Regions from separate parts of the Homo sapiens genome. Here region 2 is linked to region 1. The links come from fine-mapping of genetic effects on gene expression. Tissue or cell type: whole blood. Region 1 holds a variant in brackets; the other region holds the start of a gene. All regions are shown on one strand. Distances are between the middles of the regions.

Evidence for each region.
Region 2: FASN starts here. The variant in region 1 is fine-mapped to the expression of FASN in whole blood (TwinsUK, PIP 0.92).

What each region holds. Positions count from the first base shown.
Region 1 is chr17:82,111,511-82,128,301 of GRCh38, reverse strand. It overlaps CCDC57 (coiled-coil domain containing 57), which reads left to right. Exons shown (of 19, transcript NM_001394669.1): 18 at 394-610. Among named protein-coding and RNA genes, the nearest start is that of FASN, 22 kb to the right of the region's middle. RefSeq lists an enhancer at 10,526-11,433. The variant T/AT (reference allele first, on the strand shown) is at 8,128.
Region 2 is chr17:82,094,678-82,108,538 of GRCh38, reverse strand. It overlaps FASN (fatty acid synthase), which reads left to right and starts at 10,303. Exons shown (of 43, transcript NM_004104.5): 1 at 10,303-10,418; 2 at 12,087-12,220; 3 at 13,067-13,219. The coding sequence starts at 12,094. CCDC57 (coiled-coil domain containing 57) reads left to right here. Exons shown (of 19, transcript NM_001394669.1): 19 at 6,673-7,069. The coding sequence ends at 6,857. RefSeq lists enhancers at 105-1,018, 1,528-1,917, 2,148-2,477, 2,518-2,567, 11,079-11,994 and 2 more and silencers at 9,131-10,610, 10,681-10,870, 10,891-11,100, 11,161-11,210.

The DNA.
Region 1 (16,791 bases):
AGAGTGTTAGGAGGGCCCCGGGACCCCTAAAGCACATGGGGCCCACGCTGGCCTTTCCTTTCTGTGCCCCTCAGGGTATCTGCCCTGCATTTCAGCTCATTCCCCATCGAAACGAAACAGCCTCTGCCCTAGACATGTTTTGTCATTTAAGTGTTGAGACGAGCACTGAGATTCAGGCCCTGCCCACACTCAGCGTTCCCAGCGCTGAGACTCGCTCCCCGGATGCATCCCTGTCTGCAGCTGCCTCTCCTGGGTGATCCTGGGAGCATCTGCCTGGGCCTTTAAGCCAGGCCCACTGTCGCCTTACTGCTCCGAGGGGAGTGGTTGGGGGGAGTCCTGTGGCTTCCTCTGGGTTGGAGAGGGTGGCTTTCAAGACGATGATGTCTTTTCTAGACACAACACAGCATCCACACGGTGACCTGTAAATCACCTCGGCAGAAAGAAGACAGGTCCCCAAAGCCACCCCAGGCTCCCCAGCACCCTGAGGAGCATGGTCGCCAATCCCACAGCTCCTCCTCCTTTGCCAGTGGCACCCTCCAGGACATGTGGAGGTTGCTAGACCTGGGATCCAGCCCTTCTGGTGTCACCTCCCAGGGTGACTCAACTCCAGGTAGGAGACTGCCCTCCCCAGGAGCTGCCCACAGCTGGCAGCTGGCGAGGGCCACCCTCTCCGAGGGGCATGTGGAGAGTCAGCACCCTGCGTGCCTCCTGCACCCTGAAATCCCTGCACTTTGGTTGAGTAATGCATGGAGTCTCTTTACCTCTCATTTGGCACCTGAGTGTTTCCCGGGTTATGGTGCAAAGCCCTGAAGGGCAGAAACCATGCCATTTCCTAGTGCAGCACCGTACACCCGGGCGCACACTGACTTAGAATGCAGCACCGTACACCCGGGCGCAGGCTGACTTAGAATGGAGCACTGTACACCCGGGCGCAGGCTGACTTAGAATGGAGCCCAGGTGAGACGCGTGGGCATTGGTGCACTTTAGACGGCCCTGCTCCTGGGGAAGAGCCAGGTCGACCCCAGCGATGCTCCCGGGGAAGAGCCAGGCCGACCCCAGTGATGCTCAGCCTCACGGGCCAGACAAGTGTCAGCCGCATCCTCATCCTCGTCCTGCTTTGCTGCGCGGACGTTGCCGCCCTGAGACTCTTCTCTGCACCTAAGTCATAGGCCTGGTAAACTCAGCAGGTCACAGTGCCAGCTCCTGCTACTGGTCTCAGGAAGTTTTCAGAAAAGTCTGTTTGAAGGGTGCACCTTGTGAGGACTGCATGGGTCTGTGATGTAGCGAGAAGGGGGGAGGGAAACAGATGCTGCTTCGAGGCAGCTGGAGTTGCGGGACGTGTGATGTGGTTGGGGCGGGAGCGTGCGTCCTTCCTGTGTGCCTGCATGGAGGGCGTCCCCTTCTTACCTTACAGCTTCTGTCTTCCGTCATGAGGGTGTGCCTCATTCATTTAATCATTCTCTCCTTCATGCGCATTTTAGGCTATTTCCAGTCCTTTACCGTCACAGATACTGTTAGAATAGTAACCTTACAGGCTGCAGTGTGTGTGAAAACACACGTGTACGTGCCCCAGGGGCTTGCGTAGTCAAGGCTGCCCGCGTGCCACGTGTGGTGGACAGCATCGCCTCAGCCTCCGCCACCCACCCAGAGGCTGCTCCCAGCAGCAGTGTCTGAGAGTCCTGTAGCCACACGGAACTTTTGCCGGTGGCAGCAGGATTGGCATCAGCGCCTCTGCTGGGAGGTCGTGCATCTTCGTGTGTGTTTAGGAGCCACTTCCTTTCCCTGTTCTTCAGTTACCTGCCCATTTGTGTATTAGATTGTGGTCTTTCTTATTGATTTGTAGCAGCTCATTATATGTGATAGAAATTAGGCCTTTTCGGTGACAACAATTTAAATGTTTTCTCCCAGTTCTTCATGTTTTTAAATGTTTATTATGGTGTTTTTTTATGTTCATATTTTTTATTTTTATGTAATTTAATGTCCTTGTTTTTTATCTTGTCTGTTTTTTTTTTTTTTCCTTTGAGATGGAGTTTTGCTCTTGTTGCTCGGGCTGGAGTGCAATGGCGCAATCTCAGCTCACTGCAAGCTCCTCCTCCCGGGTTCAAATGATTCTCCTGCCTCAGCCTCCCCAGTAGCTGGAGCTACAGGCACCCGCCACCACTCCAGGCTAATTTTGTATTTTTAGTAGAGACGGGGTTTCACAATGCTGGGCTGGCTCGTCTCGAACTCCTGACCTCAGTTGATCCGCCCACCTCGGCCTCCCAGAGTGCTGGGATTACAGGGGTGAGCCACCGTGCCTGGCCAGAACCACTTCTTATTAACCCCCAAAGTGGCAACGGCTCCCAGTTTTCCATCGCTCACACTTCCCGCATATTCGGACTCCCACCTTTGTCATGGTGCTAAATGTTCCATGTGCTTTTGGAGCTATATCCGGACGGTTCGTTCGGCCACTCTCAGTCTGTTCACAGGCAGTTCCATTGGGTCAGAATCAGTGTCACTTCCTGGTCCTTTTACATGTCTGGCTGATGTAGGATCTCCTCTTTATCCTTCTCTCTCAGGGTTTTCTTGGTTATTTGCATGTATTTGTTTTTTCTTTTTTCTTTCTTTTTAAATTTAGTAGAGAGAGGACTGGAGGCAGTGGCTCGTGCCTATAATCTCAGCACTTTGGGAGGCTAAGGCAGGTGGATCAGTTGAGGTCAGGAGTTCAAGACCAGCCTGGCCAACATGGTGAAACCCCGTCTCTACTAAAAATACAAAAATTCACTGGGCCTGGTGGCGCATGCCTGTAATCCCAGCTACTTGGGAGGCTGAGGCATGAGAATCACTTGAACCTGGGAGGTGGAGGTTGTAGGGAGCTGAGATTGTACCACTGCACTCCAGTCTGGGTGACGGAATGAGACTCTGCCTCAAAAAAAAAAAAAAATTTAGTAGAGATGGTGTCTCCCTATGTTGCCCAGGCTGATCTCAAATTCCTGGGCTCAAGCGATCCTCCCGCTTCAGCCTCCCAAAGTGCTGAGACTGCAGGCGTGAGTCACCATGCCCGGCCTTTTTTGTATATAATTTTTAGACTTGGCTTGTCTGAGTCTGGTTCCCCCAGCCCCTCCCCACAAACACTATTGTAAGTGTTCTTAGGATTGACGCAGCTTCCCTTCTGCCTTAGGAAGGAATGGGGTTGTGTGGCTTCCGTTCCCCGTGTGCTCCAGTGCTGGCATCACGAATGTGGCGCGTTTCTCTCTGTCTTCCACGCAGCCGCGTCCCACTCCGTCTTCCTGACCCTCCCACCTGCACTCCATGGCTCTCCTCTGTGCTCAGGATTCTTAGGGGCACCGCCTCCTTGCATTTTTAATTCACCACAAAACATTTTGTCCAAATTTTCATCAACTCAATGGAAAGTTCTTCTGGAGACGTTCGTGTTCATTCGTTTGCTTGTTTCCTTTCTCCTTTTCTCTTGGAGCACTTTCGTTTCTTGGCTCCCCCCTCATTTTTTTTTTCTTTTTCTCTTTTTAGAGACAGTGTCCCATTCTGTCACCGAGGCTGGAGTGCAGTGCGGCAATCTCAGCTCACTGCAGCCTTGACCTCTTGGGCTCAAGTGATTCTCCCACCTCAGCCTCCCAAGTAGCTGGGACCACAGGGACACGCCACCACGCTCAGCTAAGATTGTTTTAGTTTTTTGTAGGTACAAGGTGTCGCTCTGTTGCCCAGGCTGGTCTCGAACTCCTGGGCTCAAGTGATCCTCCCACCTTACGCTCTCAAAGTGCTGGGATTACGGGCATGAGCCACCGTGCCTGGCCTCATCTTTAGAACAGGTAAATTTTTACTTGACTAGCTATTTGAAAAAGTTTGTATGGAAAATGAAGCCAGAACCATCTTCCAGCCCAGCAGAGTCGTGTCGTTGATTTTAGCTTTAAATACAAGTCTCCACCTATCAGGCTTTTAACAGCTGATACAGCTTCTCTCTTCCCTTTCCCCACAGATACTGCACTTTGCAGATAGGGCCTGTTCTGTTCCTGGTTCACTCTCCCTCCTCTCTTCCAGGAACGGAACAAGGTCAGGGAAGCACTTGCTGCCAGCCCATGTTCCTACTCCTGAAACAAGGAATTAGGTCCTACCCTCAGGGTGTACCCTTGCCTTAGAGAAATGCCCTCTGCTCTTTCTGGGGTCTGTAACGAGGCATCTGTATGTCTTTGACACAGCCCTTGCCGAGTTCCTGCAGCCTTTGGTAGCCCCCGCCACCACCACCAATTCTAGCTCTTAGTTTTAATGAAAATGAAGTTTGCATTTTTGCTTTTCATTATCTTTTTTTTTTTTTTTTTTTTTTTGCTTTTGGATGATTTACAAGGATAGTGGAGGAGTGCTAGCTTCATGATGCCTTCTTCAAGTCTGAAATCTGTCTTGTTTTCTGACCAATGCAGCCAAAGAAATGCATATTCCTCCAAGCGTTGCTTTGCTTTAACCATGTCTCATAAATCTCAACATCCTCATGTTTCCCTTGTCTTTCCCTTGTAGGACTTATAACTCAACTCATTTTGCTTTAACTTAAATGGAATTTTTCCTTAAGTTTCTAGATTTGTGGAATTTTATTTTTTTGTCTGTTACTGATTTCTAATATTTTTACATTCTGGTCAGAGAATTAAATTACTATGATGTTAACTCTTCTGAGAGGGAAATATTAGTTCTTAAACTACAATTATCAATCTATCTGTTTTTGTCAATTGTTGCTTTATGTGTTTTGAGGTTCGCTGTTAGGTGCATACATGTTTAGGTTTTTTGCCTTCTTGATCTTTTCCTCCCTTTACCAGTATGTAACATCCCTCATAACCCCTCATGTTGTATTTCACCAAAAAACCTATTTTGTCTGACATGAAAATTGCTATAGGCCGGGCGGTGGCTCACTCCTGTAATTGCAGCATTTGGGGAGGCTAAAGTGGGAGGATCGCTTGAACTCAGAGGTTCCACACCAGCCTGGACAATGTAGTGAGACATCATCTCAAAAAAAAAAAAAAAAAAAGGGCCGGGCACACTGGTTCATGCCTGTAATCCCAGCACTTTGGGAGACAGAGGCAGGAGGATCACTTGAGCCCAGGAGTTCTAGGCCGCAGTGAGCTGTGATTACACACTGCACTCCAGCCTGGGTGAGAGAGCAAGACCCTGTCTCTACAAAAAAAAAAAAAAAAAAAAAGTTATTAGGAGGGAAGGAGTGGTTAAACTGTGCAGTGGAACGCTACAGGTAGGTCCAGTTAGGTCAGGACAGAGAAGCAGCCCCTGCTTTTTTGCAAGGTGAAGGTCACTGGTGGTCTTAAGTGTGGTCTCAGGGGGGTAGTAGAATTTTCATTCAATCCTTCCCGGCTTGGGGAGAGGATGGGAGATGGGATGGACAACATATCCAAGAAACTTTGCTCTGAAAATCAGCAGTGAAAAGAGGCCGTATTTATGAAGATGTGGAGTCAAGAGGGGAGGCTCACAAGCTGTCATGTAAAGCCTGCCGGTAGGCAGTGGGAAATGGGATGACTCAGGAGAGAAGTCCTGGAGGAGGCAGGGGAAGGGGCTCGGTGCCCGTGTGCAGGGCTGGCCTTTAATAGGACAGAGGCAGAGGTGGGCACCGAAGCCAGAAGGTTGATTGCAGCCAGTGCTGTGCACTTGCCCAGCCTGCAAGCTGACAAGCAAGCCTGGCGGGAGACAGGAGGCTCCTGGGTCAGAGACCAAGGGCTCTGTCCACATAGCAGGCAGCTGGGCAGGCAGTGGCTGCAGGTGCAGTGGGTATGCATCTCAGCTGAGGAACCCAGGCCTGGGGACCGAGTCCTAGAGCGACCACAAGCACCTGCCCTCCGAGTCCTAGAGCAACCACGAGCACCTGCCCTCCGAGTCCTAGAGCGCCACAAGCACCTGCCCTGGGCCTGAGGGAGATGCTTGCTCCGACTTCTGAGCTGCTTGCTGGACAGACGCCCTTGCAAAGGGTCTGCAGCAGTGGCCAGGGCAGCCTCCACCGTGCGGGAGTGCACAGGCCCCAGGGAGGCTGTCCCTGGTCCCAGCAGCTGGCCTGGTGGTGGGAAACGGTTCTGGCAGATTCCTTTCATTTCCTCTTACATGCTCAGCATCCAGGCTGAGAGCCCGAGGCCGGCCACAGGCTCTGAAGGAGGAAGGAGCGGTGTAGGAGGCTTGAGAAAGTGGGTTGTAAAATGGTGGGTTGGCGCCTCAGGAAGCAGATCCGGGAGAGAGTGAAGAGGGCCACCAAGCTCTCTGTGAGACCAGGGAGCTGGTGACCACAGGAGTCACCTGGGGCCGAGGCCGTGCTGCAGGAAGGAGCGTTCCTGACACAGCAGCACACGTCCACCGAGGCTGAGAGTGTGGGTGGCCTGGGAGGGAAGGCGGGCTGGTGTGGATCAGTTAAGATGCTTTTAGCTACAAGTCACAGGACAGGATATGAAAGTGACGTGAACCAGAGCTTCCCGGCCTTTATCTCCTCGTGGTAACTGTGGAAAATGACACGCCTCACTAAAATAAGGAGAGAACTGAGGGGTCCATATCCTGAGTGCCCAAAATGGTCTCAGCAGGCGGCATGCACGGCCCCATGGCAGGACGCGCTGACTGAGGCCCAGGAGCTCATCGGAGCCCTCAGTCCCAGGTCAACGGGCCTCAGGTGGCCCCTCTGGGATTCTCTTTTCTCCTAATGGCTCCGCAATGGCTGCAGACACTCCCACCATCCCCTGAGAAGGCCAAAAGGTGAAGGGCCTCTCTCTCCTGAATCTTTTTCTTTTAATCAGGGAGGGAGAAGCTGCCCAGAGCCCTCAGCAGACCTGCTGTCCATCTCCTGGCTGTGGGGGTCATGTTGCCTCCCTATGACCCGGCTCCAGGCGCCTGTCTTAACAGAGTCTTAGACCCTGAGCCCTGTGAGTGAGGTCATGTCCTCGAGAGCCTGCTGCCTGCAGCTCAGTAGCACTGGGGCCTCTTGGCAGGAAAGCTGGGGAAGCACTGGGGGCCTCAGCAGGTGGAGGAGGTGGCCAGATGCAGGCCCTGCCATGTCCCTGCCTCCCTAGGCTGAGACAGGGTGGCTGGTATTTATTTTTTCTTTATTATTTATTTTAGAAACACGGTCTCACTGTGTTGCACAGACTGGGCTAGAACTCCTGGCCTCAAGCAATCCTCCTGTCCCAGCCTCCTGAGTAGCTGGGATTACAGGCGGGAGCCACCATGCCTGGCAACGGCTGGTATTTCTTAGCATCGGTGTTGCAATTAAAAAGCAAGCAAGAGGCCGGGCGCGGTAGCTCACCCCTGTAATCCCAGCACTTTGGGAGGCCGAGGTGGGTGGATCACTAGGTCAGGAGATCGAGACCATCCTGGCTAACACGGTGAAACCCTGTCTCTACTAAAAATACAAAAAATTAGCCGGGCGTGGTGGCGGACGCCTGTAGTCCTAGCTACTTGGGAGGCTGAGGCAGGAGAGTGCTGTGAACCCGAGAGGCGGAGCTTGCAGTGAGCCGAGGTTGCACCACTGCACTCCAGCCTGGGCGACAGAGTGAGACTCCATCTCAAAAAAAAAAGCAAGCAAGAAAGATACGTTTCAGCATAAGTCCATGGGGCTTTTGATTCACCCTGTGAAGGATTTAGGAAAAGACTAAAGTGGTTCATGCAGTTGAGTTGTTTAATGATCTGCGAAGTATCTTGATGCTTTCCTTGTGTTTTGAATATTTGAGCATGCTTAACTGAATTATCTGTGTGATATTTTTACTTCATGTAAGAATACTTTCCTTAAAACCTTGGAAACTGCGTTGGTGAAGTAAGGGGTGCCACTTAAGGGCACCGGGTTTCTGGTTAAGATGCGACACTGCGCCCTCCAGTGCACCGACACTAGGACAGAGCGCAGCTCGGCAGTCGCTCGCCAGACAAGCAGTCTGAAAGCTCCATTCTAGAAACGGAGAGGAAGTTTCCTCCTCTTTTTTAAACGTGTTCCATGCATTGTGGGTAACAGAGTATGCACACTACACAGTCATGATTGGAGTTTAAAGTAATAATGTTGCCAGGCACAGTGACTCAGCCTGTAAACCCAGCACTTTGGGAGGCTGAGGTGGGCGGATCACTTGAGCCCAGGAGTTCAAGACCAGCCTGGGCAACATCTCTGCAAAAAAAAAA[T/AT]AATAATAATAATAATGAAATGATACTGAAATAGTTAACAATTTAGTGGCATCTAAATTAATGACATGAACGACTATTGTAGGATATGGTGTTTAGTCACGACGTCACACAGCTGTGTTGAACAGCCATACTCCTCTTGGACCTGGGATAGGCCCCGAACCACCCTCCTGCTCATGTCCTCAGCCCTGCTTTGCCAACCTATCCAGACCCAGCAGTCACCCCGTCCCAGGGCACGGCCAACCTCTGAGGCTGGAACAGCTGGCTGGAGTCGGGGCTCCCCCATACACCCTGGATGCGGCTCTTTGGAGGACCCACCTCCAAGCCTAGCCTCCTCTCTCACCTGCGTTTTTATGACAGCCTCAGATAGATAGGTCTCCCACACAGACTGCTGGGGCCCAGCACGTCCAGCCTCATCTCCCTCCCTTCTTCCCCCAGCTACCTGCACTCCAGCTCCAGCCTGTCTGCACCTGTGGGTGCCCCCCAACCCCTGTGCACCTGTGGGTACCCCACCTGCAGACCTTGCAGCACCTGCAGGCACCCTCCTTGTTTGCCCAGCACCTGCCTCCTCCAAAGGCTGCCCAAGAGACCTGTCCCCCATCCAGCTTCCTTCCTTCCTGCACCAGCCCCAGGCCATGCCATTTTTCTTCCTAAACTTGATTCTATCGGTCTGCTTCAGAATGTCTCGGAGGGCAGGGGCATGGTCTGCAGGTGGGGTACCCGTAGGTGCACAGGGGTGGGGGGGCACCCACAGGTGCAGGGGCATGATCCTTGATTCCTGTCTGCTCCACGTACAGGGAGATAACTGTGAGGGATGGGAGCATGGGAGGCCCCGAGTCTACAAAACCCAGGAGTCTCAGAAGATGTTAGTCTCAGATAATGCTAGAGAAACTACCAAGCATTATCCAAAAAAATGTTTGAGGCTTAAAAAAATGACACTTCCTGGATGGAAGCATTAAATATACAAAGGCAGCAGTTTTCTCCAAAGTAAAGTAATCTGTAGTGTCATTCTAATCAAAATACGACTAATTTCTCACCACCCCCACCCCCACCCCTGCCCCCACTCCCACCCCCACCCCCGCCCCCACCTCCCGCCCGCTCAGTGGAGCCTGGTAGATAAGAATGTAGTTGTTCTCCAGGAGCCAAGGAAAGAAAGAACCATTCAGCAATTGGCAGGGTGGGAACACAGCTTACTCTGATCTCCGCTTCCTCTCACGGGGACCACACACTACCAGGCATTCCAGGGCGAGGGAGGGACTCCAAGGCAAACCACGAAAATACGCAGAAGTAGAATGGAGTATTTACAAATGGCCGGAAGAGGGTTAACCTTAGATACGGGTGAAGAAATCACAGATTTCTAAGGTAGTGTTTTTACCTGAAAAATCATCAAACTGGAAAGATATTCTTCAGCAGCACAACAAAAGTCAGCGTACATAAAAAGCGCGGCAGACTGAGTGGCACCCAGTGCGGACGGAAGCTCTCCCTAAGGCAGTTCCAGAGAAGCACCCAGGCAGATGTCTGACCTCACCCCAAAGAAATACCTGCTTCTGAAGCCGACCCCCTGCAGCAGGCCTGCCTCCACCTCCCTAGAGTGCACCTTATGGGTGTGTATCAAGTGCCCAAATGTCCTTTCAGGAGCCGGTACAGGGACCAGCCACCCAACAGTCTGTCCCACGTGTGTGGGCAGCTAAGCCCCGCAAGTTCCGGAGCACCTCGCACCTCGCTGGGGCAAAGGATGTTCCAAACCCCATCTCCGGATGCGTGGGGCATCCTGCGCTAATGAATAACACATCAGGTTTCAGTCCTGCGCTAATGGATAACACCCACATCGGGTTTCAGTCCTGCGCTAATGGATAACACCACACTGGGTTTCAGTGGACTGTGTTCCTTCTCCCTCTTCTCTTACTCCCTCCCAGTCCCTACCCACCAGGCCACAACTGCCCAGTCCCCCTGCACCCCTCCAGACTCCCCAGCCACCCTCAGAACAGAAGTGGTTTTTTAAATATATGTGTATATCCTCTTTTCTTGTCAATTGCATATCGTGGGGGCAGCTTGCTTTTTTATTTATGTCTGCAGTATTTTTTATGTCAGTACACACAGAGCCGACAGATCTTTCTGGTAGTTTTGTGAGCCGCCGCATCGGCTCACCTCCCTTTGTTTTGGTGTCTGATGTTTGTGGACACTTGGACGGCCTGTCGTTTTTAGCTCTTAAGAGAGTGAACCTCCTGTGCGTGTGCCCTGCGTGCTCACAGAGGCTGCTGTTAGATCAGAAGGGAAATAGCTGGTCAAAGGTAGGGTCAGTTTGAGTTCTGAGCGCTGTTACCCAATTGCCCCCAGGACGTTGGCCCCCTGCTCCTGGTTGCAGGCGTGAGGCACCTTTCCTCACTCAGTATTGGTGGATTTAGCAAATGGTTTGTTTGTTTGTTTGTTTGTTGGCCAATCTGATAAGTCAAAACTGATACTTCATTATTGGTTTTAATTTGCCTTTTTTTTCTAGTCCATTTTATTTTATGTATGTATTTTGAGATGGAGTCTCACTCCGTCGCCCAGGCTGGAGTGTAGTGCCGCAGCCATGGCTCACTAAAGCCTCAACCTCCCAGGCTTCTCAACCTCCCGGGCTCAAGCATTCCTCCTTCCTCAGCATTCCAAGTAGCTGGGACCACAGGCACGTACCACCACACCTGGCTAATTTTTTACATTTTGTAGACAGGATCTTGCCATGTTGCCCAGGCTGGTCTCGAACTCCTGGGCTCAAACAGTCCTCCCACCTTGGCCTCCCAAAGTGCTGGATTACAGGCATGAGCACCTGGCCTAATTTGCCTGGTTGTTGTTTGAGTCAGGATCTCCCTCTGTCGCCCAGTACAGTGGTGCAATCTCAGCTCACTGCAAACTCCACCTCCTGGGCTCAAGTGATCCTCCCACCTCAGCCCCTGGAGTAGTTGGGGTTATGGCGTGCGCCACCATGCCTCGCTAATTTTTTTATTTTTTTTGTAGAGATGGGTTTTCCCCATGTTAGCCCAGGCTGGTCTCGAACTCCTGGGCTCAAGTGATCTACCTCGGCCTCCCAAAGTCCTGGGATTACAGGCGTGAGCCATCGCACCTGGCCCAATTCGCCATTTTTAAATGATGAGGTTGGTCATTTTTCCTATCAATTGGCCATCTTATATGTGGTTTATGTGTTGTCGACATTTTTGTCCTTTTCAAAGGGGACTAGGAAAGCTAGCAACAGAAAAATGGGCGTTTGTTGTGACTTCTGAAAGTCAGGGACTCGAAGGGAGACAGGAGCTTTCCGGAGAGGGCCCTGCTGTGGGGGGACCTAGACTGGAGACCAGAGGGAGGGCTGCAAGCCTGGTTTACAGATACACATAATGGGAATGGTTCTGTGTGTTTTCCTCGAGTATTTGTTGAGTGCCTACTAAGTGCCAGACACCATACCTGGTGTCTCACCTGTGCTCAGGTCTTTAGGCTAAGGCTGTACAGCTACTACCATCCCATTGTCAAATGCAGAAATGAGGCCCAACGCTACATGGCCACAGATCCCATAGCTGAGGGTCCCAAGGCCCAGCCCTTGTTCTGCACCCTGGAGTTCTGGAAGGGACTTGTCTGATTAGAGCAGGGGGAGGGCCAAGCATGTCCTGGGGTCAGAGGAGATGCTTGGCCAGAGCTTCTGAGGAATTCGGCTGTGCTGTGGGGGTGGGGAAGACTGCATAGGAGAAGTGGGTAGGGCCGCCATGTAGAGCCTCATCAAGATTGGGGCCAGGGCTCAGTGGGCCGCCCCTGGGCCGCTCCCTGGGGGTGGGATTTGGAGGCGGTCCCTGCCATGCACCCTGTGGGTGGGTCGGAGGTGAGTGATTTTGTTTTCTTCTAGGTGGAGGCCCCCCTGCCTCCCACCCTCACTCCCCACCCCACTCTCCAGCTGCAGAGGATGGTTTAGGAGCAAAAATGGTCACAACTTTAAAGGGTGTCCCATGTTAATGCTGGCTTTTTTTTTCTTTAAAAAATTTGTTCTTTTGAAATTTATATTTGTTTCTCCACAGATTTTGAGATGTTTACTTTAAAAAAAAAAAAAAAAAAAGGTTGTGGCCGGGCGCGGTGGCTCACGCCTGTAATCCCAGCACTTTGGGAGGCTGAGGCGGGTGGATCATGAGGTCAGGAGTTCAAGACCAGCCTGGCCAAGATGGTGAAACCCCATCTCTACTAAAAATAAGAAAAATTAGCCTGGCACGGTTGCAGGCACCTGTAAACCCAGCTACTCCAGAGGCTGAGGCAGGAGAATCGCTTGAACTCGGAGGGTGGAGGTTACAGTGAGTCAAGATCTTACCACTGCACTCCAGCCTGGGCGACAGAGTGAGACTCCATCTCAAAAAAAAAAAAAAAAAAAAAAAGGTTGCATAAATTTTTTGTATTTTTGAGACAGAGTCTCCCTCTGTCGCCCCGGCTGGAGTGCAGTGGTGCGATCTCAGCTCACTCCACCTCCCAGGTTCAAGTGATTCTCCTGCCTCATCCTCCTGAGTAGCTGGGACCAGAGATGTAAGCCACCATGCCCAGCTAATTTTTAAAAACTTTTTTTGTACAGACAGGGTCTTACTATGTTGCCCAATATGGTCTTGAACTCCTGGGTTCAAGCAATGCTCCCATGTCAGCCTCCCTAAGCGCTGGGATTACAGGCGTAAGCCACCATGCCTGGCCCATAAAATGTATCCTAAGGTCGCATAATTCTGTTAACTGGCTGCTAACTCGGTTAATTTTTTTAAACTGTTTGTAGAATTAGAGCATTTCTGGGCAGTTTTGTGTGTTGAAGACACCTTGTAGCCAGGCTTTTCTCATCTAAAGATCCAAAGGGAAAGAAGGACAAAAGCCGCCCCCTCTTGCCCCCTCTTGCCCCCTCTTGCCCCCTCTTGCCCCCTCTTCCCGGACAGCCCGAATGCTGGTGGAGCCTCCGCTGGAGATCACACAGGGCTCCAGTGACTGCCCTGCTCGGCCCCAGTGGTTGCCGCAGGCTGGGGCTCTTTGCTCAGATGAAGGCCAAGTCCAAAGTCACACAGCCCCAGCTGGTGGAATCAGGATCTGAATCCAAGCCCTGGATCCAGTCCAGGCCAGAGCCTCCTCTGCAGAGAAGGTACTAGGTGCCCATGCACAGGGTGACTGCCAGCCTCGTGGAGTGGGGGCAGTGGTGTCCCTGCGGGCGGGCTTGGTCTTCTGAGGCCATGTCAGTGCCACCCCAGGGCCGCCCTCCATGGCAGTGTGGGGCCAACAAGCCTGTCTTCCCATTTTTCTGAGAGAGGCTGGAAATCCTGTTCTTTTTATATATAAAGTGTTTCCTTTTCAAAATATTGGCAACTAAGTAAATCCAAACAAAGTATGGGCCAAATCATGGCACACTCCTGCCCCACAGGTGGCCCTCCAGCTAAGAGTCATGTTTACAATTTTAGAGGTTTGGTGGGCTCCAGTGGGACCACGCCTGGGGGTGGAGTGGCTGTGGGTGAGCGTGTCTCCACTCCCACACCTCGCCACTGAGAAGACAGAGCACGGGATCGTGACAGCCGAGCTCCAGCCGCCCTCCACCTAGTCACTGTGGCCCTGCAGGGGCTGCCAGCCTCTGCATTCAGGAGCCAGTGGGCGCCGAGGACACACTCCCTCCCTCCCCTGCCTGGGGTCCTGTGCTTTTGAGCTGAGACTGTTCTGGGCCTTTCCTGAAAGGATGGTAGAACGCCAGAGTGGCATTTCAGTGTGATTGGCCTCTGCAGGACCAGCTGGGCTCCCAAGACATAAAAACATGCCCTGAGCATTTGGCCTCAGCACCAGCTCATCCTCACGCCCCCGTCCCTCCCCCCTCACCCAGCCAGAAGTCCCCATGCTGCCTCTGGCCCCCACCTCCGCAGGCACTTTTGTGCTTCTTATGACACCCAGGGCTTTCGTTCATTTCGTTCAGGAGAGCAGGTCGGGATGGCCCCGCCATGGATGGGTGAGGAGCCGGCTGTGACATGTTAAGAAACGGGGACAGTGAAGAACAGTCTGTACCTCCTCTGTAAACGCGCAGGGAACGTTACAGTCCACTCTTCCATCTGTGGCGTCACTCTGTGTACTGACGAGGGAACCCCCTCAGGGCCCAGGTAACCTGCACTAGAAGGTGCACGTCAGGCTCCTGATGGCCAAGGTGAGATGGACAGCCCAACATAGCTGCAAGACCAAGCTGCAGGGCAGGCAAGGGGGCCTTGGGGCTCTTATTTATTTACTTTATTCTCGCTCTGTTGCCCAGGCCAGAGTGCAGTGGCACAATCTTGGTTCACTGTGGCCTCAACTTTCCAGGCTCAAGTGATCCTCCTGCCTTTGTCTCCTGAGTAGCTGAGACTACAGGTGCACATCACCATAGCTGGCTAATCTTTTTACATGTTATTTTATTTTTTTGTAGAAATGGGGTCTCACTATGTCACCCAGGCTGGTCTCGAACTCCTGGGCTCAAGCAGTCCTGCCGCCTTGGCCTCCCAAAGTGCTGAGATGACAGGTGTGGGCCCCACGCCCAGCCTGGCGTGGAGTGGAGCCCTTCACCCAAACATGAACCAGGAGGCGAGCTTGGTAAGGAGCACGTGGGCTCCAGGAATGCGAGGGGGAATGAATGGAGGCAGCTCCTCAGTGTGCAAAAACATGCAGCGCGGGCCTCACTGGTCACCATCACAGCAGCCTTGCAGTGGGATCAGGACAGTCCTGCTGTCCAGGAAGGAGAGGACCCTGCTCTCTTGTTTCTCACTACCTGCTCCTGTCGTTCTAGTCCCATTGCTGCTCTCAGGACAAGCTGTGACTGAGAGAGCAGGTCACGCTGGTGACATTTTATGAGGCTGGATGCACAGCCCCACAGCACCTTGTCACTGAAGCTACAGGAATCCAAGAACCAGTGCTCTGGCCAAGAAGGGAGCACTGGGGTGCCCTGAATGGCACGGACAACCCCAGCCCCCCGCCTTCACTGATTATCATGACCTGTGGCTTCTGAAAGGACAGGGCAGTCTTGGAACTTTCTGAGAAACAGATGGTCAAGTAGATGTCTGTTAGCTCTTTTCTTGAAATTGTAGTGACGAAACCATGACTGCCACTTAGGAAAGTAACTTGTGTTGAAATAACTTTTAGAACAAAGTAAATACATTAAGAAATAACCAAATCGGCTTACTTTCTGATAATATTTATTCTATGCCCACACAACGGCTGGCACTCACTTCTGCTTCTGGCCAGGCCGTAGTTACAAGGACCAGACTTTAATGTTCCTCCATGAACAACTAGAAAACTGGACAAAGTATATGAAACAACTGTTTGCAGACATTGGACAACTGGTCAAACAAGACCGAGATCCCCAACAAGACCGAGACCCTGGACGAGTCCGAGATCCCGGACAAGACCGCCACCCTTGTTGGAAGGGAGACAGGCAAGGTGAACCCTGGGGCCCTGGCCTTCTGCCTGAAGGCCGTTTCTGGGCTGCCGGCACAGGGAGGGAAGCAGGGCCTGAGCAAAGCTGAGCACCCTTACGGAGCTGAGACTGCACTAGGGTCTGGGGACACAGAAGGAGCCGGCATTTCAGGGCAGAATCCCGCAAGGAGGAAACTGCAGAAAAGAGCTCCAGAAATCTGCACAGGGTTCTCTTGAGTCTGTACTGAGGACCAGCCTGTACATGTATAGAAGAAAACTCCACAAAGCCAGGCAAAGAGGAGAAAGGAGCATGTAAGGTGAACAACTTCCAGACCTCGCACACGGTCATGACATACTGAAGCTCCAGCCAGGGGGATGGGTCCCCAGTGATCACTGTGGACATTCAGTGGAGACTCAGGAGGAGCCACACCGTGGGAACAGGGCTGATGCTGTCTGCAGTGAAGGCTCGTCTAGAACCTGCCTGAGAAACTGCAGCTACAGAAATCCAAGGCCTGGCATGGCGGCTCACGCCTGTAATCCCAGAACTTTGGGAAGCCGAGGTGGGCAGATCACCTGAGGCCAGGAGTTCACAACCAGCCTGGTCAACTTGGTAAAACCCCGTCTCTACTAAAAATACAAAAATTAGTCAGGTGTGGTGGTGCATGCCTGTAATCCCAACTACTCAGGAGGCTGAGGCATGAGAATCACTTGAACCTGGGAAGCAGAGGTTGCAGTGAGCCGAGATCGCGCCACTGCACTCTAGCCTGAGTGACAGAGCAGACTCCTGTCTCAAAAAACAAAACAAAACAAAAGAAAAAACACCACATAACCCAACTTTCACCCAAAACAAGGCCCAACACTCTTTAAAAGACAAGAAGGCGAGCACCATGGCTCACGCCTGTAATCCCAGCACTTTGGCAGGCCAAGGTAGATGGATCACTTGAGGTCAGGAGTTCACAACCAGCCTGGCCAACTTGGTAAAACCCCGTCTCTACTGAAAATACAAAAATTAGCTGGGCATGGTGGCAGGTGCCTGTAATTTCAACTACTTGGGAGGCTGAGGCACGAGAATCACTTGAACCTTGGAGCTAGAGGTTGCAGTGAGCCGAGATCGCACCACTGCACTCCAGCCTGGGTGAAAGAGCAGACTCTGTCTCAAAAAACAAAAACAAAAAACAAGAAAACATATAACCTAACTTTATTTCAAAACAAGGCCCAACATGCTTTAAAAGATAAGAAGACTGGATGTGGTGGCACATGTCTGTGGTCCCA
Region 2 (13,861 bases), 18 kb after region 1:
TGTATTTCCCTTTAAAACTCAGAGCCAGCGATAACATGACACCAATGCAACACAAGCAAGAGAGATCCTGCCCTGAAACTCACTGTTGTTTTAGGCTTTCGGCGGACCCTGCTATAAATATGCAGATTTTATGCCCAGTCTGTGACCAGGGCCGAACCTCTTTCCTGAGGGGCTGGGGGACTCCTTCGAGGAGCAAGAACAGCCCGGCTGTCCACAGAGGAGCCCGTTTTCAGGGGTGGGATCACAGGTCAGGTGCTCTCTCAGCACAACTCCAGGACCCGGGCAAGCCATGACACTCATCTCACTAGGAGGCAGAGCGCCAGAGCGGCCGCAGGTCACTCGTCTCTGCCACTTGCTCTCCGAGTGCTCCAGAGTCAAGGACTGCGGCCTGGCCAAGGGGACAGTGGCCTGTGGCCTCTGACTCTGAGCTTGGAGAAGGCTTGCTGCTCCAACATCACGTGGACAGAGGCAAGGAGGCACGTGGGATTGGGAATGGGGATAGAGACCAGCCTGCCCCAGGAGCAGGTGGGTCCACCAGAAATGCTCATGCATTTGCTGACCAGGACTTCCATCCTGAGGTGTGTGCAGAGTGATCCAAAGCCCCCTCGTCCGTGCCGTGACTCTGGGCCCTGGAGCCCACCCCCTTTCTTTAGAAAAGCCTGTTCTGTAGGCATCTGTCCTGAGAGCACCCGATGGCACTGTAGGATGCTGAGAGCAGCTGAGGCAGGAGGGCCGGCGGCTGTTCCCTCCCAGAGTCCCATCTCAGGTGGACGCCGGTCCACGACTTCCAGCCCAAGGGCTAATGTGTCTTCTCCAGTCCACGTGGCAGGTGTTGCCAGGGGAGCGGGCAGTGCAGCTGTTGGACAGCAGGGGGTGTTTCTTCAACCCAGGCTGCCCTCCTTCTCCTGTCACAACAGGGCCCCATTCATTCTGGAACCTGCAGACCAACTCCATCCGCCCATCCTCACAGTGTGCCGAGCGCCAGGTCCAGAAGCACGCACCTACCTGGGGGCCTCTTCCTCCTTTCTGGCGGGGGTCCGCTTTGGCCCCTGATGCTAACCTCGCCCCGTGTGCCGTGCAGCTGGAGTCAAACGGAGGCGCAGAGACGCCATGGAGGGTGACAAGCCACACAGCAGGGTTCGAGGCAGCCACTCCCCACTCCCCACTCCCGCGGCATCTGTGCCCCACCCGGGTGCCAAGCCACTGTGCCATGCATCCCCCCACCCCCAACCTGCTGCAGGTGTGTGGGCCTTTGCCTCTTTTCCCAGGGGAACCAAAAACCCTGGGATCCAGAGGGTCATTGCCCAGATCTCTGGAGAGCAACTCCAGGGGCCTGGTCTCCAGGGGAGAAGAGGGAGTGGGGAGAGGCCTTTGGCCAGGCATGTGGCCCTCAGTGTCCTGAGCAGGTCGGGCAGCTGATAAGTGTGTGGCTGGCGTAGCTCCTGCAGAGCCAGGCTCCCTGGAGGAGCGTGTGGCCTCCTTCCCAGCTGTCCGCCCTCCTGCCAAGACATGCAGGGAGCAGCCCTGAGACACGGGTCTCAGGCAAAGTGAGTGGCAGGCAGTGCTGTTCCCCGGGGACATGGCGGTGACCTGCTGGTCTATGGCCCTGAGATGCTAGGGTGCCCACCTGGAGCTGTAAGCTGGCCTGGCAGACCTGGGAAGGCCCCATGGGCCCCTTTTGAAAGTTCCCTTTTCATGAATTTTACCCAGAATCTCCCCTGCACACTGGCCCCTGCTGCTTTTTGCTGTCCCCAGACAGTGCCAACAGAGACCACGAGTCGTCTAAACACCAGCCCAGGCACTCAGCACTCAGTGCAGAGTCCTGGCCCAAGGGGCATGAGGCCAGCATTCCTCACTTTAGGACCAGGAAACAGTTCCCATGCCTCCGAAACAGCGGAGACAGCTGCCACTTCCTGTCGCCCCAGCTCAGCCGCTGCCTGTCACTTTCCTTCCGGGGCCTCAGGGCGTTCTCCTGCGTTTACTCTTCTGAAAGGCAGGAGAAGGGTGGGGTGTGGAGATACCCAGAGGCTGTCCAGCTCTCAGGCCACTGCCTGGCCCTGGCTCTCACCGTCTCAGCCTCCTAGTGGCCTCCTCGGCACCCACCAGCCTGCAGCCACCTGTGCTTGGGGTTCTTGGCACCTCCCCTTCCTGTGGGCTGAGCTCAGATGGGCTCTGGTCGGGAGCCGGCCCAGGAGGAAGGCCATGCGTCTCTGGGTCTCTTCTCGCCCAAGTGAGGCCTGTGTGCCCGCCTTCCGTGATGCAGCCTCCGGTAGGGACAGACCCACGTCTCTCAAAGCCTTATGCCCACGATGTGTTTCCCTTGAATTCCCTTCCTTGGGGCTCCAGCTTGCACCCCACTACTAGGTGACTCCTCTCAAGGGCTGGGATGGGGCCCACATTGGGCAACACTGACAGGCTGTAGCAGACAGGCCTGGGCAGGCTCAGCAGCAGCAGGGGACCTGCCAGTGCCGTTGGGGGAGTAGCCACAGGCGCCCAGAGGAGGTGCTGGCATGAAACAAGGGGTCAGCCTGTGGTCGGCGCCCAGGCCCCCGAGGGCCCACCTCTCCTCTGCTCCAAAGGCCAGCAGGCGGGGCCTGAAGGATCTGGGGTTTCCTGCTGGCCCTGCCTCACCAGGCTGAGTGATGGGTGGCAGGACTGCCCAGAGCCCTGGAGCATGCAATGTCCAGTACCCTCCCCTCTTGTGCATCTGCCCAGTGGGGGCTCCAGGCTCCATGTGCCAGTGAGGTGGGGAAGGCAGCTGGACATAGCAGGCCCGGAGTGTCCCCCTGTGGAGGGACCGTGGGAACCAGATCACGTGGGCCTCCCTCCCCCTGTACCCCATTGCTCTCCTGTTGTCACACTCAGTCCCACAAAGGCAGCCCCGGGGCCACGGTGACCCCCCAGGGCTGAGCTCCAGGAGCTCAGGGGTGGGGGTGTCCATTAGGAGACTTTAGCAGGTGAGGGTTGACGCAGGCTGGGGAGACACGGGTGGGCGTGGCCTGTGAGCCTCCCAGGCGTGGGGACCCTGGAAAGGTGCACGCAGCTTCTGGAGATTCGGGGTGGGGGGAGTCAAGTCACATTCACTGTCACCGTCTGCACTAAAGGCCTGGGTGCCGTGCTGACAGTGGTGGGAAAAGCCTTGTTCCCAAGAGACTTGGAAATAACTAGATGCATTTGAGAAGGGTTGATCTTGGGTGCGTGAGGACCCCTGTGGCAGCCAGAGGGGGTTCAGCAGAACAAGGGCCCTTGACACAGCAGGGGTGAACCACACAGAGCAGCGGAGGCCACAGGGAGACGGAAGGGCCTCTGTGCCACAGAATGGACTTGAGGCCTGAGCTGCCATCAGGGCCAGGCCCTCCCCAGCCCCAAGGCAGGCTCTGGAGAACCAGGGAAGGCGTGGGCTCACCGTCTGGCCCTTCCCAAAGCCCTAGGAAGCCACGTAGGTGTGCCCAGGGGCACCCAGAGAGCCCGGAGCAGCCTGGAGAATGAGCCACCAGAGGCCAACTTGGTCAAGAGCTGAGCTGAGGCTCAGGTGCAGGAGAAGAAACTCACAGGGTGGCCAGAAAGCTGGGGACCAGCTCCGTCCTCTTTGTGCTCAGAGTTCTCATGCCCCCAGGCTGAGACGGGAGTGAGGGCCGCACCTTCCCTGCAATAGGACAGGCTATGTCCTCCCTGAGATTCCACCAGCTTCAAACCTCCAAGCCGGGCTTGGTGGCCCACACCTGTAATCCCAGCACTTTGGGAGGCCGAGGTGGGTGGATCACGAGGTCAGGAGATCGAGACCATCCTGGTTAACATGGTGAAACCCCGTCTCTATTAAAAATACAAAAAACTTAGCGGGGCGTGGTGGCGGGCGCCTGTAGTCCCATCTACTCGGGAGGCTGAGGCAGGAGAATGGCGTGAACCCGGGAGGCGGAGCTTGCAGTGAGCTGAGATCACGCCACTGCACTCCAGCCTGGGCGACAGAGTGAGACTCCGTCTCAAAAATAAAAATAAAAATTTAAAAAACCCTCCAAGTATGGTGCAGCCGCCTGAGGGGACGGAGCCCAGCCTGGGTGGCCCTGCCTCAGCACACACCAGGACCTGGGAGGGGTTAAGCCTGGGAGGGGCAAGCAGGCCCCAGTCCCCCTCCCCTGGTTAATCACTGCAAGGCCTTGGATGTTTCAGGAACTTTCCAGAAGCTCAGTTCGGGGCCAGAGCACAAGCAGCCCGTGGGGGAGGGGTGCAGGACCCAAGAGGCGCGTTCCTCACGCTGTGCCCGGCAAACTGTGTGTCCACATGGTTTCCCTGCGGCCCAGTCAGCCCAACGCAGAAAGAGAAATCCCGGCCAGGCTCGGCAAAACAGGTCAGGCGAGAAGGCGGGGCAGAGAGTGGTGGAGGCCAAGAGCGTTTTTACACACCAGTTACTGGGTTGACCTCAGATTAGCATCAGGTAGAAGAATCCGGGGTCACAGGGAGTCACGCCTGGGGCAGCCGCCTTGACACATCCAGCTCCGTGCCTCTGACCTAGGACTGGCTGGGCTGGGGCTGTCCGCTGCCCTGGGGTCCTGGGCTCATGGCCAGTTCCCTGCCACCATCACTGAGGAGGGCTCCGCAGGAAAAGGACCAGTGAAGAAACCAGAGCCTGTAAAGTGGATATTCTGAGCTAGGGGCCGGCCTGCCCTGGGGAGGGGGCCAGCTCACCCTCCCTGCCCCTCCCTGCCCCTCCCTGCCCCGGGGACTGTGACCCACTCACACCTCCCTGCTTCGCCCCGGGATACAGCCAGGGTCCTCCCAGCAGGGCCAGCTCAGGCCTCCCAGGCAAAGGGGCAGGCCCTTCACCCCCCTCCCTCAGCTCACTTTTTCTGAAAATCCCCACAGGCTTTGTCTGAGGAGGATCAAGCCGGGCAAAGCCCCCAGAATCCCTGAGCATTACAGAGGGACAACCAAGGCCTCTGGGTTTGAGGAGATGCCTCAGGGTCACAGTGGAGCACTAGGGCCTGGTCAGAGGACCAGCTTCCCCGCAGGAAGCCCTTTCCACGGGATACCCCACCCTCTGCCAGCCAGTGTGGGGGGTGGGGGGAGGGAGTGGGGATGGGGGCGTTGGCCGGGACCAGGAGGTCAGGCAGGCTTATTGTTGAGAGATAAAGGGTGGTAGCCTTTGTGTGAAGAGGAGGAATTCCTCTGGGGGTTGGAAACAAAGGGAGCAGGCAGCGTCCAGGGCCCCCCAGGACCCCAGCAGGGGGCCAGGGACTGTGTGACCCCAACGGGGCTGCAGGAAAAGGAAGACTGGTTCCGGGTGTCTTGAGACCCCAAGAGTGGATCGGAGTGGAAGAAGCTGAGATGGGAAGAGGGGCCCAGGGCCAGGGCTGGGAGTGTGTGGCTGCCCCCATGGGCACTGCGCAGCCCAGCTGAGAGTGCGTCATTGCCGGTGTCCCCAAAGCACAGACGCTTCCCAGTCACCCAGGCTGCACGCAGACCACACAGGCTGGGCTCCAGCAGGAGGCGTTGGCCGCCCGCTGACCTGCCTGGGTCAGCCTGTCCAGACTGCCCACTGGGCCACATTCAGCCACGTGCTGGAGTCCTCTAGACCTCACCCCAGCCACAGTGTGGCCACGCAGTGGACGCTGAGCTCACATCTTACTGTGGGGTTTTTTTTGTTTTTTTTTTTTTTGAGATAGAGTTTGCCCTTGTCCGCCCAGGCTGGAGTGCAGTGGCGCAATCTCGGCTCACTGCAACCTCTGCCTCCCGGGTTCAAGCGACTCCGCTGCCTCAGCCTCCTAAGTAGCTGGGATTACAGGTGCCCGCCACCGTGCCCGGCTAATTTTTTGTATTTTTAGTAGAGACGGCGTTTCACCATTGTTGGCCAGGCTAGTCTTGAACTCCTGACATGAGGTGATCCACCCACCTCGGCCTCCCAAAGTGCTGGGATTACAGACGTGAGCCACCAAGCCCAGCCCTTGCATGGATTTTTAGTAACATTTTGCTGTTGTTTTACCAAAAAAAACCCCCACATTCTTAATTGAAAAAATGAAAAATAGAGAAAAACTGGCCAGATAAAGAAGATCACCTACAACACCCCTCTGCGAAGATGGTTTTAGCCGATGTTTAGGAAGGGCTATCTGGCATTTAGGCCCCAGCCTCTGTGTGTAGCGCACTCCTGGGCCCTTGGCCTGTGCCTGGCCACGTGGTGCCCACCAGCACGGCCTTTCCTTTGGCCTCAAAAGCCTGGCACTGCTGGCCCATCGGGGAGGCGGGGGCAGGCAATGTGTCTCAGATGGTAGGGACACCCGGGGCAGCCTGGGGGGAGGAGCTTTGAGTCAACCATTTACCCCAGCACCCCTGCCCCCTCCTGGGACCCATTACCACACAGCACCCCTGCCCCCTCCTGGGACCCATTACGAAATGGTCACAACAGGACCATTTTCAGAGCCACATGTCCAGGTGCCCAGTGGAGGGGCAGGCCCAGTCCCTGCCAAGCAGGACCCACTGAGCAAGGCGAGGCCACAGCTCTCTGGTCACTCCAGGATCCTTTGGCCTTCACGGACTCCTGGAGGAAAGCCAGGCCAAGGGTCACAGGGCCCCCGCTGGCCGGGAACACGGAAGTGCTGCACCTGTGCAGTGCCTGTGAGCACAGCCTCCTGCTCCCCCTGCCATCCTGATGCATGCTGTTTTTTCCTCTTTACCTGACAGAGCTCCCAGCTCCTCCAGCAGCCGACAGGAGGCCCGTCAAGATGCAGGCAGGCATTGCCACCCCAGGGATGAAGACAGCAGCCCAGGCAAAGGCCAAGACCACAGGAGCCTCCCGGTCTCATCCTGCAAAAGCTAAAGGCTGCCAGAGGCCCCCCAAGATCCGTAACTACAACATTATGGACTGACTTCCTCCCCCCACCCCGCCCCACTAAGGGGTGCTCGGGGCCTCCGCATGGTGCCTGTGCTTTCACCTACGTGTTGTGGGGGGGTGTGGGCACAGCGTGCAGGGTGGAGGCAGGGAGCTGCAGGGCAGGCTCCCAAATGCTGCTGAGGCGACCCTGCTGACTGAAGGCCTCCCTGAGCACAGGGCCCATTAAAACCAGGTTCCTCCCTGGGGCGTCTGCTTGGCCTTAGCGTTGTTTATCTGTCCTACTTGGGAAATGCAGTATCAAGTGCCTGTGCCAGAGCCTGGCCTGCCCGTGTCACCACCCACAGCCATCTGCACACCAGTGGTGTTGGGGACAGTGTGGCCTTCCTCAGAGCCTGGTAGCAGGTAGGGGGCAGATCAGAAAGCCCACCCACAAAGCAGGCGTCTCCTGAGAGTACCATGGGAGGGGCCCTCCCAGAAGGAGTGAGAGCCTTGGATCCCAGTGAACCGGGCCAAGGTGACCCCTGGAAGCCAGGTGGGCACCTGGGCCTCATGCAGGTTGGGGTGTGCATGTCAGGTGCTGGCAGGGTGGGGGCCAACCGGGGACAGCGGTCACTGCTGGGCCTTCCACGTCCACCCCCACGAAGGATAACAGCAAAATGTCCCTGCCACCTGAGTGCCCGGGGCCAGGTACCTGCAAGGATGAGAAACGCACACGTAAACTGACGCCCGTCCGCCCGGAACACACTGCACTACCCCGCCAAAAAGCACTTCCAAGAGTCCTCGCGTGTCCTCCACACGAACACAATGCTCTGCGACCGGCAGGAGGGTGACTGGGGGTGGTTCATCACACGGACGCAGTGCTCTGCAACCGACAGGACGGTGACTGGGGTGGGGGTTCATCACACGGACGCAGTGCTCTGCGACCGGCAGGATGGTGACTGGGGGGGGTTCATATCCCACCCCCACTCCTCAGGAGCCCAGTCTCTGTCCCCCGCACCCCCCAGGCCTGGTCACACTCTGCCCACAGCAGAGTGCAGGGGTGGAGGCAGCCGGTACCCAGCTGGGTGAATTGACGGGCCTTGCCATATACCCTCGGGCCACCTTTCTGAACTGGGCAGACAGCTTCTCTGGGAACACGATGGGAGAACGCTGCTCCCAGCCCTAACCTGCCGTGCCACCTTGGCAAATCGTGGGACCTTTGCAGCTTTGGTTTGCACCCCCAGTGTAAAATATAGACAGTGCCATCGGCTGGCCTAGCTCACAGGTGTGCGGGCCGGATAACCGTGACAAGCAGAGACCACACCACACAGACAAAGGCTGTGGCCCCAGGGCAGGGGCGTTTGAGGTTAGCCTCCGTCACTTGCTCCATGGGAATCCAGACGGAGTTGGGGATGGGCTGGAGGCTCTCAGTGCTCTGTGGTCTCCCACACATGTCCCCTGGAATCGAGTCACGGCCCTGTGAGGTTTTTTTGTTTGTTTCTTTTTTTGAGACAGAGTCTTGCTCTGTCGCCCAGGCTGGAATGCAGTGGTGCAATCTCGGCTCACTGCAACCTCTGCCTCCTGGGTTCAAGCTATTCTCCAGCCTCAGCCTCCCGAGTAGCTGGGACTAGAGGCACGCGCCACCACACCCGGCTAATGTTTGTATTTTTAGTAGAGACGGAGTTTCCCTGTTTCCCAGGCTTGTCTACAACTCTTGACCTCGTGATTTGCCCGCCTTGGCCTCCCAAAGTGCTGGGATTACAGGCGTGAGCCACCAAGCCCGGCCGCTGCCGCTCACTTTCTGTGGAAGCCCTCAGGGTGCTGGACGAGTCTCCAACCTCCTTGGGAGCCAGCCAGGGCTCCCCTGTAGCTGGCCCAGCCCTCGACAGGCTGCAGAGAGCAGGGCCCCGCTGGCCGCTGATCACCAGCACTGGCAGCCAGGGCCACCTGGGAGGTTTGGAGCATGGAGAGCCGGAGCTGCGTGCCCGCACGCCTGAGGCTGACACAGGGCCTCACCCTGAATCAGAAGAACCCCCGCAGTGGGGACAGCAGTGCGGGGCCAGCCCCGGCCCTGTCTTCCCTTGTCCTTCCTTGACCCTCGGTCCCACCGTGCGTCAACCACAGCCCCAGAAGGGAAAAGACGCGGAGTGGCCGCCTGACCCTCAGGCCTGCTCTCAGGAGAGGAAGGAAGCGGGACACCTGCAGAGGGGCCGGGGGCCCCAGTCTCCGGTTCCCCTTCAGCGGCCCGGGCTTGCTGAGCCCTCAAAGTAGGACACGCAGCCAGAGACACCTGTGGCCTCACAAGGCCCGCTTGCCCCCCATGGGGTGCCTGGCCCCGCAAGCGCGAAGCGGTCAGAAAAGGGAGGCCGCGCTTCAGGGCTCAGGCCGCCCAAGGGGCCACGATTCGAGGAATCACTCGGGAGGGAGGGAGCGCGCGAGGGCCGGGCTGAGCCCCCGCCCGTGGGTGCGCGCCTGGAAAACTCGCAGCCTCCGCCCTGGGAAGTGGGGCAGCGGCTCCCTTTGTCCGCACCACACCAGGTGGGTGTCCCGGCCGACTCCGCTCGCCACGTGGCCGCGCCCCTCCCCTCCGCCGAGCTCCAGCGGCCTGGAGTGCGCTCGCCCGTTCGGCCCTGCGCCTCGTCCGGGTCCCCGGGAAGCTGCTAAGGAGGGGCCGTCGGGTGGGTGGACGTCCGTCTCGGGTCTGGGTTCCCCGCCGCACCCGCGAGGAAAACCGGGGATGCGCTGCGATGACCGGCAGTAACCCCGGCCGGGGCGCCCGCGGCCGGGGTCAACGCCCGCACTTGCGCCGCGGCCCGCGAGGCATCCGGGACCGCCCCGCCGCCCGCCCATCACCCTATCGCCTAGCAACGCCCACCCGCGCGCCGCCATTGGGCCGGTGCGAACACCCCTGGCGCCCGATTGGTTGCTGCTGCCGCCGCGCCGCGCAACGCCGCGCCCTCAGCCAGCTCCGCGCGGGCAGCGACGGCGGCGTGGAGTCGGCGGCCGAAGTGCGGGCACGCGGGTCCGTCCGTCCTTCCGCGCGCCTGTGGGTCCGAGCGCCCCGCCGCAGCCGGCTGGACCCCCGGTGTGGCCACGGGGTAGTCCCCAGTGTGGCCCAAGCATTCCCATCCCGCACACGTGGCCCCGGCGGACACGGGGGTCGGGGATGGCTCGGGAGGCGCGCCGCGGGCTCGGTCGCAGCCGCGTGCGCGTCGGGGCCCGCGGGGCGGGAGGCGGAAGTCGGGGGGCGGTGGTTTCCCGCCCGCCCCGCCCCCGGCGCTCCTCAGTCCCAGCCCCACCCCCCCAGGCGCGTTCCCGCGCAGGGTCCCGGCTCGGGCGGCGGCGCGCACGAGCATCACCCCACCGGCGGCGGCGCGCCGGGTCCCGGGGCGCAGCCCCGACGCTCATTGGCCTGGGCGGCGCAGCCAAGCTGTCAGCCCATGTGGCGTGGCCGCCCGGGGATGGCCGCGGTTTAAATAGCGTCGGCGCCGGCCTAGAGGGAGCCAGAGAGACGGCAGCGGCCCCGGCCTCCCTCTCCGCCGCGCTTCAGCCTCCCGCTCCGCCGCGCTCCAGCCTCGCTCTCCGCCGCCCGCACCGCCGCCCGCGCCCTCACCAGGTACGAGCAGCCGGCGCTGGGGCCGGGGCGCGGGTCGTGGTCGGGGCTGGGCCCGGGGTTCCCGGGGTGGCCCGGCTCCTCATCCTCCGCTCTCGGGGCGCGCGTGGCCCGGCCCCGTATCCAGGGGTCGCCTGGGCGGCCTGTCCGGGTCTCGGTGTTCGTGCCCCTTCGGAGGCGCCCGGGGCCCCGCGGAGTAGGTGGGCGGATGGCGGGGGAAGGACGCCGGGGAAAGCCACCAACAGCCGCCTTCGCTTCCCGTGGGGGAGGCCGCGGACCCTGAAGGGCCTGGAGGAGCCCCCGGCTCGGCCTCCCCGCGCCCACAAAGGCGCCGCCGCATCCTCCTCCCGGAGCCGCCCCGGAGCCGAGGCCCAGCCCGAAGGGGACGCCGCGAGGGAGGAACGGGGGGGCGCAGGGGCCGCGCCGGGACCGGCCTCCCCATCACGTGGCGCAGCCCGGCCGAAGCGCAGGGGTCCCGAGCAGCCCCCGCCCGGGGCGAAGGGAGGCCGGGCGCGCCGCGGTGTTCCCACCCCCTGCCTGGCCGTCGACCCCGCGTGAATAGCAAGCGGCGAGGACCCAGCGTGCGGGCCTGGAGCTGGCCCGGGGCAGCCAAGCCTCTGTGAATCGCAGCGGGTGGGAAGGCGGCCGCCTCCCTGCCGGGACGGCCCAAGGGAGGCCGCACTGCCGAGGGGCGGCGCGCGTATCAGGCCCTGGGGCCTCGTGCAAGTGGCCAGACCAGCGCTGGCCTCCGCCCCCTCCCCCCAGGGCCGCACCAGCCCTCATGCTGGAGGAGGAGCCGGCGGCCTGGGCACCCGTTCCGGGTCTTAGGGACCTGGGCTCCAGGGAGGGCCTCCTGTGGTGTGTGGGTTGGTATGGGGAGGCAAGCGTCTGTGGGTTCACCCGCGCAGGTGAAGGGTGCCAGGCAACACCTGCGTGTCCTGGCCAGGAGTGGTTCTCCAGGTTGGACCCTGCTGGAGGGGTTGGACTGGCTGGGTCGGTCCACAGTGGGGCAGGGGCCACCTTTCCCCCAGAGCATAGGCTATCCCCATTTCGTCCCTCCCCAGCCCTGGTGGCTCTTGGGCTGGCCTGGACAGCGGGCCCCCACCCCAACACGGGTGAGCATGGGTGCTGAGTACCCCCCTCTAGGGCTCCCAGCCACCTCCATGCCCCGGCTTTGGGACCCTGCCTCTCCATTTCTTTGATGGCCCTTAGCAGGCTGGCCACCTGAGGCCTTGTCCCCATCTCAGGTGACCCTGCCTGCTCCTCACTGTGAGCCCCCTGGTGCCCTAGGGATGGCCTGGGACAAGCTCCAGGAGCCTTGGAAGGCTGAGACTCAGGCGAGTGGAAGCCGACACAGGCGCAGAAACCAGTAACTGCTGGGGAGGCCAGGGCTGCAGGGCTCCAGTGGGGTACCCCAGCCAATACCCTGAACTGAATGGGTCAGGGCCCAGAGGCGGGCCTGTTCCCAGAGCACGCAGCCCCTCCCAGCGAGAGCGGGGTCAGGGCCCAGGAACTGGCCACATGAGGAAGGGAGCCGCAGGAGCCAGGGCCCGCACGGACCCTCAGGGTGGTGCTTGGCCCCATGGGTGTCCACCTGTTCTGGGTGCCGAGGCTGTTGACGGGGGTGTCGTGGCCGGGATGTGTGGGGCACTCACACCGCCCGCCCTGCAGAGCAGCCATGGAGGAGGTGGTGATTGCCGGCATGTCCGGGAAGCTGCCAGAGTCGGAGAACTTGCAGGAGTTCTGGGACAACCTCATCGGCGGTGTGGACATGGTCACGGACGATGACCGTCGCTGGAAGGCGGGTATGTGGCTGCGGGGCTCCCCGTGCCTGGGGTGTGAAGCTCCATCTCCACCTTTGTCCTCACAGCAGCCTCCCTGCTGTGCTGTGTCCTCACCACCCAGGCACTGGCCTGAGGCCGGTCCCAGCTGCAGAGCCACTGGTCACCCATGGGCGAGGCCTAGCTGCAGCCTCCTTCCTGGACATTGCACCAGAGTGGCCTAGAAAATGCGCCCAGCCTGCCAGGAGGTTCCCTCAACGGCTGCAAGGCCAACAGGAGGCTCCCCCAATGGCTGCAAGGCCGAGGGCTGGCCCAGGCAGGGCCCATCTGCTTGTTACGGAGGAGCCAAGCTCAGAGGATGGGTGACGGGCTGGGGTCTCTCACCCATGCAGGGGGTGCGGGGGGCCAGAGCCCTTCCGGCCAGGCTGCCCCTGCCTGTGTCTGTCCTGAGCTGGGAGGTTGCATACCAGATGTGCTCCGGGAGGCTGGAGCAACTGCCCCACACCCAGTAGGCTCTTCCACAGAGCAGCTCTACCTGACAGGCAAGCTGTGAGTCAGCATGGTAGAGCCGAGGCACCAGCCCGGCAGATGGTCCCCCAGCCTCACTCCCGCCGAGCTCTCTGCTCTGCGGCCCATCTCAGGATTGGGGCTTGGGGCTTGGGGCTTGTGCAGCAGATCTGGTCGTACCAGTCCCCGCTTTGGGGCCATGGTCTTCCCCTCCTGGGGAGCCTGCTCCATTGTTTGGGCCTCCCAGGCATAGCAGAGAGTCCTCAGTTCCACCATGGCCCCTCCAGGGGCCTGCAGCACCCCACAGGGCCCCCACCTCTGGGCAGCTTCCGTCAGAGATTTAAACACCCGCCTGTCCCACAGGGCTCTACGGCCTGCCCCGGCGGTCCGGCAAGCTGAAGGACCTGTCTAGGTTTGATGCCTCCTTCTTCGGAGTCCACCCCAAGCAGGCACACACGATGGACCCTCAGCTGCGGCTGCTGCTGGAAGTCACCTATGAAGCCATCGTGGACGGAGGTGGGTCGGGCATTCGCGACTGCTGCGCCGAGGGCTCCTGCTGCTCACGTGGAATAGGCAGTGTTTTCTCTTCTTGGTTCTGGTAGAACCAGGTGCTGGCACCACCTACCCTCCCCGGCTGTGCCCCTGGCCTGGCCAACGGGCTCAGGGAGGTGTGGGCCACGGGGTAGGCCGCAGTTTCCCAACTGCACCCCAGAGGTGTCGCGGGTGTGCCCTGACCTGAGCGTACCAGTCTCCTCGCTTCTGATGTCTGGCTGGTGCTGGGGCCGGGGCCGGGGCTGGAGTGACGAGAGGCAAAGCAGGAGGTTCTTGAGGGGCCCTCCAGGCCCCCACCCCCACCAGCCAAGCAGCGGACAGCACCGGCCCTGCTGTCTCTCCCCTCCCACCCTCCCCACTACCCTTGCCCACGTCCCCCCACCCCAGGCATTTCAACCCTCTCCCGCCAGCCTGGCCCTCGCTCTGACTGGCATTTGACCTCGGACAAGCGCCACGCCGTTTTTTTATTTTTATTTTTATTTATTTATTTATTTTTAAGACGGAGTCTCACTCTGTCACCAGGTTGGAGTGCAGTGGCGCGATCTCAGCTCACTGCAAGCTCTGCCTCCTGGGTTCACACCATTCTCCTGCCTCAGTCTCCTGAGT